Linked DNA regions of Homo sapiens. Changing the gene in region 2 together with the main gene of any one other region gives a genetic interaction. Each region holds a gene or a part of one and is shown on either strand. Other genes may lie near its edges.

Evidence for each region.
Region 1: changes in SDHAF4 (region 2) and ACACA together harm fitness more than expected from each alone (negative genetic interaction), as found in Homo sapiens cells (one large-scale study listed by BioGRID).

What each region holds. Positions count from the first base shown.
Region 1 is NC_000017.11:37,400,337-37,403,836, reverse strand, and holds part of ACACA (acetyl-CoA carboxylase 1), read left to right. Parts: intron 1-3,500. UniProt on the Homo sapiens protein: Cytosolic enzyme that catalyzes the carboxylation of acetyl-CoA to malonyl-CoA, the first and rate-limiting step of de novo fatty acid biosynthesis.
Region 2 is NC_000006.12:70,569,930-70,573,429, forward strand, and holds part of SDHAF4 (succinate dehydrogenase assembly factor 4, mitochondrial precursor), read left to right. Parts: intron 1-3,500. UniProt on the Homo sapiens protein: Plays an essential role in the assembly of succinate dehydrogenase (SDH), an enzyme complex (also referred to as respiratory complex II) that is a component of both the tricarboxylic acid (TCA) cycle and the mitochondrial electron transport chain, and which couples the oxidation of succinate to fumarate with the reduction of ubiquinone (coenzyme Q) to ubiquinol.

The DNA.
Region 1 (3,500 bases), on a different chromosome or scaffold from region 2:
ACTGCCCTCCAGCCTGTTCAACAGAGCAAGAGTCTGTCTCAAAAACAAAAAAACAAAAATCATAGCATTCAACTACCTGGAAATTACCCTCTCCCTTCAGTTGATGTTAGGCTCTACTTAGACCAATTTAGTCAGTGTGCTTAAGAAAGATGTGGAGAGGGCAGGACACGGTGCCTCACACCTGGGATCCCTGCATTTTGGGAAGCCAAGGTAGGCAGATCACTTGAGTTCAGGAGTTCAAGGAGGCATGAGAACTGGGCAACATGGTGAAACTTCGTCTCTACAAAAATTGCAAAAATTAGCCAGGTGTAGTGGCGCATGCCTGTAGTCCCAGCTACTTAGGAGGCTGAGGTGAGAGGATCACTTCAGCCCAGAGGGTTGAGGCTGCATTGACCCAGTATCACACCACTGCACTCCAGCCTAGGTGACAGAGTGAGACACTGTACCAAAAAAAAAAAAAAAAAAAAAGATGTGGCAAAATTAACATGCACAGTGAGAAGAAGGGTAACACTGATTACTGATTAAGGCAGTACTCCTCTGGGTTTTTGTCTTAAGTGGATGTGATAGTGGCATCACTTACACGACCAGCTGAAGGAAGAATAGATTTGGAGGAGAAATTGAAAGTTCTGTTTTGGATCTGTGTTTTGCATTCTGACTGGAAATGACAAATACAAGTCTACAGCTCATTGGAGGTGTCAGAACTAAAACTGTATAACTGTATTAGAATTGTTTATTTGGCTGTGTGTCTTACCTAGACAGACCTTGAGGACAGACACTGTTGTCTTTGTAACCTCAGTGCTCTGAAGTGTATCCTCAAATACTTGTGAAATGAGTAAGTAAAGGCAAAAGTAAAAATGAAGTCACTGGCTGGGTGCAGTGGCTCACGCCTGTAATCCCAGCACTTTGGGAGGCTGAGGCGGGCGGATCACGAGGTCAGGAGATCGAGACCATCCTGGCTAACATGGTGAAACCCCATCTCAACTAAAAATACAAAAAATTAGCCGGGCGTGGTGGTGGGCGCCTGTAGTCCCAGCTACTCAGGAGGCTGAGGAAGAAGAATGGCGTGAACCTGGGAGGTGGAGCTTGCAGTGAGCTGAGATCGTGCCGCTGTACTCCAGCCTGGGCAACAGAGCGAGACTCTGTCTCAAAAAAAAAAAGAATGAAGTCACTTAGGCAAAATGTAGAAGATACATACTCTATGCTTTCACTGAAAGTCTAAGCACCTGAATGTGACTTACAAGTAGGGTGACCATAATTTCTGATTTGCTGAGAATAGCCTGGTTTATATCTGTTGTCCCTACCTAAGTATTAATATTGCCTGGTTTCACTCTCAGTAAAGTCTCCATTTGTACAATAAATTTATATTGTCATTCTTTTTAGAAGGCCCTTCCAGATCTAGCATCTTCCTATATCTTTATCATCACTGCCCTATCTTAGACTCCATTTGCCAGCCAGGTGGACATACCTTCATTTCTCATATGCACTCTTAACTTCAAGGTTTTTTTTGCCAAGGTACTGCCTACCTCACTTAGACATCACTTCCTTAGGAACACTTCTCCTGACCCCCCAATGGCTGAGTTAAGTCACCCTCTTACATGTTCCCAGTACACCTTGTATTTAACCTGTCATAGCAAAGATGACTAAGTGCCTTGTTCCCTCACTAAATATCTCTGTAAAGGAACCCAAAAAAACACCTTTTGTCCTCTTTAAGCCATAAATTTATATTAATAATATCCAAATCCATGTTGAACCAGTATTTTTGAAGATTGACCTTCAGGATAAACTAATAGCACAATCTTCATGCCCTTTCATTCATAAGTAACTGAAAAGGTTGACTTTTGTACCAGGAACCCAACGAAGAAAACTTGTATCTTGTCAGGGTTGGTAACCTGGCTGCCATTGACTGAGACCAAAATATCCCAACAGTTTGTCCTCAGCTGCTAAGCTGCTGTGGTTAGAATCAAACGTAGAGTTTCTGGCCTGGTGCGGTGGCTCATGCCTGTAATCCCAACACTTTGACAGTCCTAGGTGGGAAGATTGCTTGGGCTCAGGAGTTCGAGACTAAACTGGGTGACTTAGTGAGAGTTCAACTCTACAAAAAAATCAAAAAATTAGCTGGGCATGATAGCACACGCCTGTGGTCCCAGCTACTTGGGAGGCTGAGGTAGGAGAATCACTTGAGCTCAGACAGTTGAGGCTGTAGTGACCGTGATTGTGCCACTTTACTCCAGCCTGGGCAACAGAGTGAGACCTCGTCTGGAAAAAAAAAAAAAAAGGTAAAGAGACAACCTACGGAATGGGAGAAAATATTCACGACCCCTACATCAGATAAGTGGACAAGGGCCTGAAAAGACATTGCTCAAAAGAAGACATGCAAGTAGCATGGGAGGCCGAGGCGGGTGGATCACCTGAGGTCAGGAGTTCGAGACCAGCCGGGCCAACCTGGTGAAACCCTGTCTCTACTAAAAAAACAAAAATTAGCTGGGCGTGGTGGCGGGCGCTTGTATTCCCAGCTACTCAGGAGGCTGAGGCAGGAGAATCACTTGAACCCAGGAGGCGGAGGTTGCAGTGAGCCAAGATCACACCATTGCCCTCCAGCCTGGGCAACAGCAAGACTCTGTCTCAAAAAAAAAAAAAAAAGAAAAACAAAAGAAAAAGACATGCAAATAGCTAACTGGTATGTGAAAAAAATGTTCAACATCACTAATCATCAGGGAAATGTGAATTAAAACTACCATGAGATATCACCTCACACCTGTCAGAATGATTATTATCAAAAAGCGAGATAAGCATTGGCAAGGATGTGGAGAAAAACCCTGTACACTGTCAGTGGGAATGTAAATTAGTACAGCCATTTTGGAAAATAGTATGGAGGTTCCTTAAAAATTTTTGAATGGAACTACCATATGATCCAATAATCCACTTCTGGGTATATATCCAAAGGAAATGATATCTGCATGTCAAGGTATCTGTACTCCCATATCCATTGCAGCATTATTCACCATAGCCAAGACATGGAAACAGCCTACATGTATGCCAATGGATGAATGAATAAAGAAAATGTGAGATATAGATACACACACACACACACACACAGACACACACACAATGGAATACTGTTCAGCCTTAAAAAATAAGGAAATCCTGTCATTTGCAGCAACATAGATGGACCTGGAGGACATTATGCTAAGTGAAATAAGCCAGGCACAGAAAAACAAATACTGCTTAATCTCACTTATGTGTGGCATCTAAAAAAGTCAAGCTTGTAGAAGTAGCAGAATGGTGGTTACCAGGGGATGAGAGAGAAAGAATTGGAAGATTTTGGCCAAAGGATACAAAATTTCAGTTAGACAGCAGGAATAAGTGCAGGAGATCTATTATACTATATGGTGACTATAGTTAAAAATATATACTTGAGGCCAGGCACTGTGGCTCACACCTGTAATCCCAGCACTTTGGGAGGCTGAGGCAGGTGGGTCATCTGAGGTCAGGGGTTTGAG
Region 2 (3,500 bases):
AGGCAGGAAACCAGTTTTCATTTTTTTTCATATCAAACACTTGTCCCAGGTTCATGTATTTATAGGACCTTTCCCCTACTGATATAATGCGAGCCATCATAAATCAAGTTTACTTATACATATAGGCATACGTTTATTTCTTGGCTCTTTTCTCAGTCCCATTGACCTATTTGTCTATTCCTGTGCTGATACTACCTGTCTTGATAATTATAGCCATAACTTTGTTATAAATCTTACTATTTTCTGACTGTTGTTTATGTACAGAAACATGATGCTTAATGATTTTGTATCTAAATTACCTTATTAATTTAAATAATTTACTTTGCAGATTTTGGGGACTTTGCTGCATAGCCATTCATATCATCTGCAAATGGTGACAGTCTAGTTTCTCCCTGTCTAATCCTTTTTTTTGAGAAAGGGTCTTGCTCTGTCACCCAGGCTGGAGTGCAGTGGCGCAATCTCTGCTCACTGCAACCTCCACCTCCCGAAATCAAGTGATTCTCCTGCCTCAGCCTCCCGAGTAGCTGGGATTACTGGTGTGCACCACCATGCCCGGCTAATTTTTATATTTTTTTTAGAGATGGGGTTTTGCCATGTTAGCCAAGTGATCCTTGAGAGCCTCGGCCTCTCAAAGTCCTGGGATTACAGGCGAGAGCCACCGTGCCCCCCACCACCCTCCCTGTCTAATCCTTATATCTTTTTTCTTTCTTTGCTCAGATTTCCAGCACCATGTTGACTAGAAGTGTTGACAGCAAGCATACTTATCTTGTTTATGATTATAAAGGGAATGCATTTCTTTTTATCATTAAGGTGTGATATTGCAGTCATTTAGATAAAATTGCTACATTTTTTTTTAAGTCACCATCTCCTAATAACTTCTAAGGCATGTTTTATAAACGAATCCTCAGGGAAGAGTTCTAGCTATCTCCCAAATAATTCTGTTCTTTTAAACCAAAAAATCTCCGTCTTATGTTTTTGTTAAAACTCTTTATTTTGGATTTACATTTACTTACAGGATTTAATGATCCATAACTGTGGGTCTTCAGAGTCCAAGCCTTTGTGAAATAAAATTTCATGGAACATGAAAAAAAAAATATGGTATTAGCTACAGTTATACCCTTTTTGGGTTAAGGAAGTCTGTTTCTATGTAGAGTTTTGGGATTTTGTTTTGTTTTTGTTTATGTATTTGTATTTGTTTTTTAATGATGAATAAATCTTGAAGTTTACTTAATTGATTTTTCTTTGTCTTACTGAGGTGTTCTTCGTCTTACTGAGGTGTTTATCATTTTCTGCTTTAATCTGTTGAGGTGGTAAATTACAGATTTTTCTGATAGTGAATCACTTGCATTCCTAGAAAATATTCCAAAGGATCATAGTGATTATATTTTTAAATATAATGTTGTATTTGTTGTGCTTATATTTTGTTTAGAAATTGGCCTGTAATTTTCTTCTATTATACACTGAAACCCCTGCCTCCCGGGTTCAAGTTATTCTTCTGCCTCAGCCTCCGGAGTAGCTGGGATTACAGGCACACGCCACCACTCCCAGCTAATTTTTGTATTTTTAGTAGAGACAGGGTTTCACCATATTGGCCAGGCTGATCTCAAACTTCTGACCTCGTGATATGCCTGCCTTGGCCTCCCAAAGTGCTGGCATTACAGGTGTGAGCCACCGCGCCCAGCCTTCCCTGGTTTTAATATTAAGGTTATTCTAGCCTCATATAATGTACTGGGGATTCTACTCACTCTTTTCCCTTCTTTGTTAGATTTTGTTTAAGATTGGAATTATTTGTTCCTTGAGGGTTTGTTACAACTCACCTGCAAAACTGTCTAGACCTGTTCTTCTCTTCGAGGGAAGACTTTAAATTACTTGTTTAACTTCTATAATGGTTATTATTATATTTATCAGGTTTCCTCTTAAGTCAGTTTTGGTAAGTTAACTTTTTCTGGAAAGGTTTCCATTTTGTATTGTTTCAATATATAGGCATAAAGTTTCTGGTATTTTTTTAAAATTTTCTGCTCTCCATATAATATGTACTCTCTTTTTCTCATATTATCTATTTTGCTTTCTCTTGTTTTTTTATAGTAGCCTTACCAAAGCTTTTACAACACTTTCAGTCTTTTTTTGTCTTTTTTTTTTTTTTTTTTTTTTTTTTTTGAGACAAAGTCTTGCTCTGTCGCCCAGGCTGGAGCGCAGTGGTGCGATCTTGGCTCACTGCAACCTCCACCTCCCGGGTTCTAGTGATTCTCCTGCCTCAGCCTCATAGCTGGAATTACAGGCGTGCACCACCATGTCTGGCTAATTTTTGTGTTTTTAGTAGAGACGAGGTTTCACCATGTTGGCCAGGCTGGAACACTTTCAGTCTTTTCAGAGCACCAACCTTTGTTTATTGTTGATCTTCTTTGTTATAAGTTATGCAAAGGATATTTATTGTACAACATGGTGACTATAGTTAATATCAGTGTATTGTATACTTGAAAATTGCTGAAAGTAGATTTTAAATTTTCTCATCACAAATAATAGATATGTGAGTTAAGGCATATATTAGCTTGATTTAGCTATTTCACAATATATACATATTTGAAAACATGCTGTACACCATAAATGTATATAATATTTATCAATTAAAAAATGAAGACTATATTGAAAGTTATTTTTACATTGTAAATTATGTTTTTATTCATTTTTTTCTTATTATCTTATTTTTCCATTTTCCGTGGTTTTTTTTTTAAACATGCAAATGGTGCATCTCACATAAACAGCATATGGCTTGTTTCCGGTTTGTTTGTATGGGGGTTTTTGTTGTTTTGCAGACTAATAGTCTCTTTACCCTTATAATTACTGATAAAATTACATTCCTCTGTTCAGACTCGTGGGTCTGTGTGTGTGTGCACATGCATGCACAGGTATGTGTGTTTTGGGTGGGATTTTGATTTTGATAAAACCTATAAAGATTTTGATTTTGATAAACATAAAGACTTTTGTATAGTCAGTATGTTAAAGCATTTTCTCTGTATTCTTATCTCCCACTTTACTTCTGGGAACACTTTTTTCTTTTTTCTGAGAGACAGAGTCTTGTCCTGTCACCAGGATAGAGAGCAGTAGTGCAGTCATAGCTCATTACACCCTTGATCTCCAGGACACAAGCCATACTCCCGCCTCAGCCTTCTGCCAAGTAGCTAAGACTATAGGCACCACCGTCATGCAGTCATGCCCAGCTAATCTTTCATTATTTTTATTCATTTGTCTCTATGCGTTTTTCTGTATAATTTCTTTGCAACTTTATTCCAGATTATAAATTCTCTTTTCAATTGTATTTATTCTGCTATTTGGCCTTTTTTTTTTTTTTTTTGAGACGGAATCTCACTCTGTCGCCCAGGCTGGAGTGCAGTGGCACAGTCTTGGCTCACTGCAAACTCTGCCTCCTGGGTTCAAGTGATTCTCCTGCCTCAGCCTCCTGAGTAGCTGGGATTACAGGCACCCTCCACCACACCCAGCTA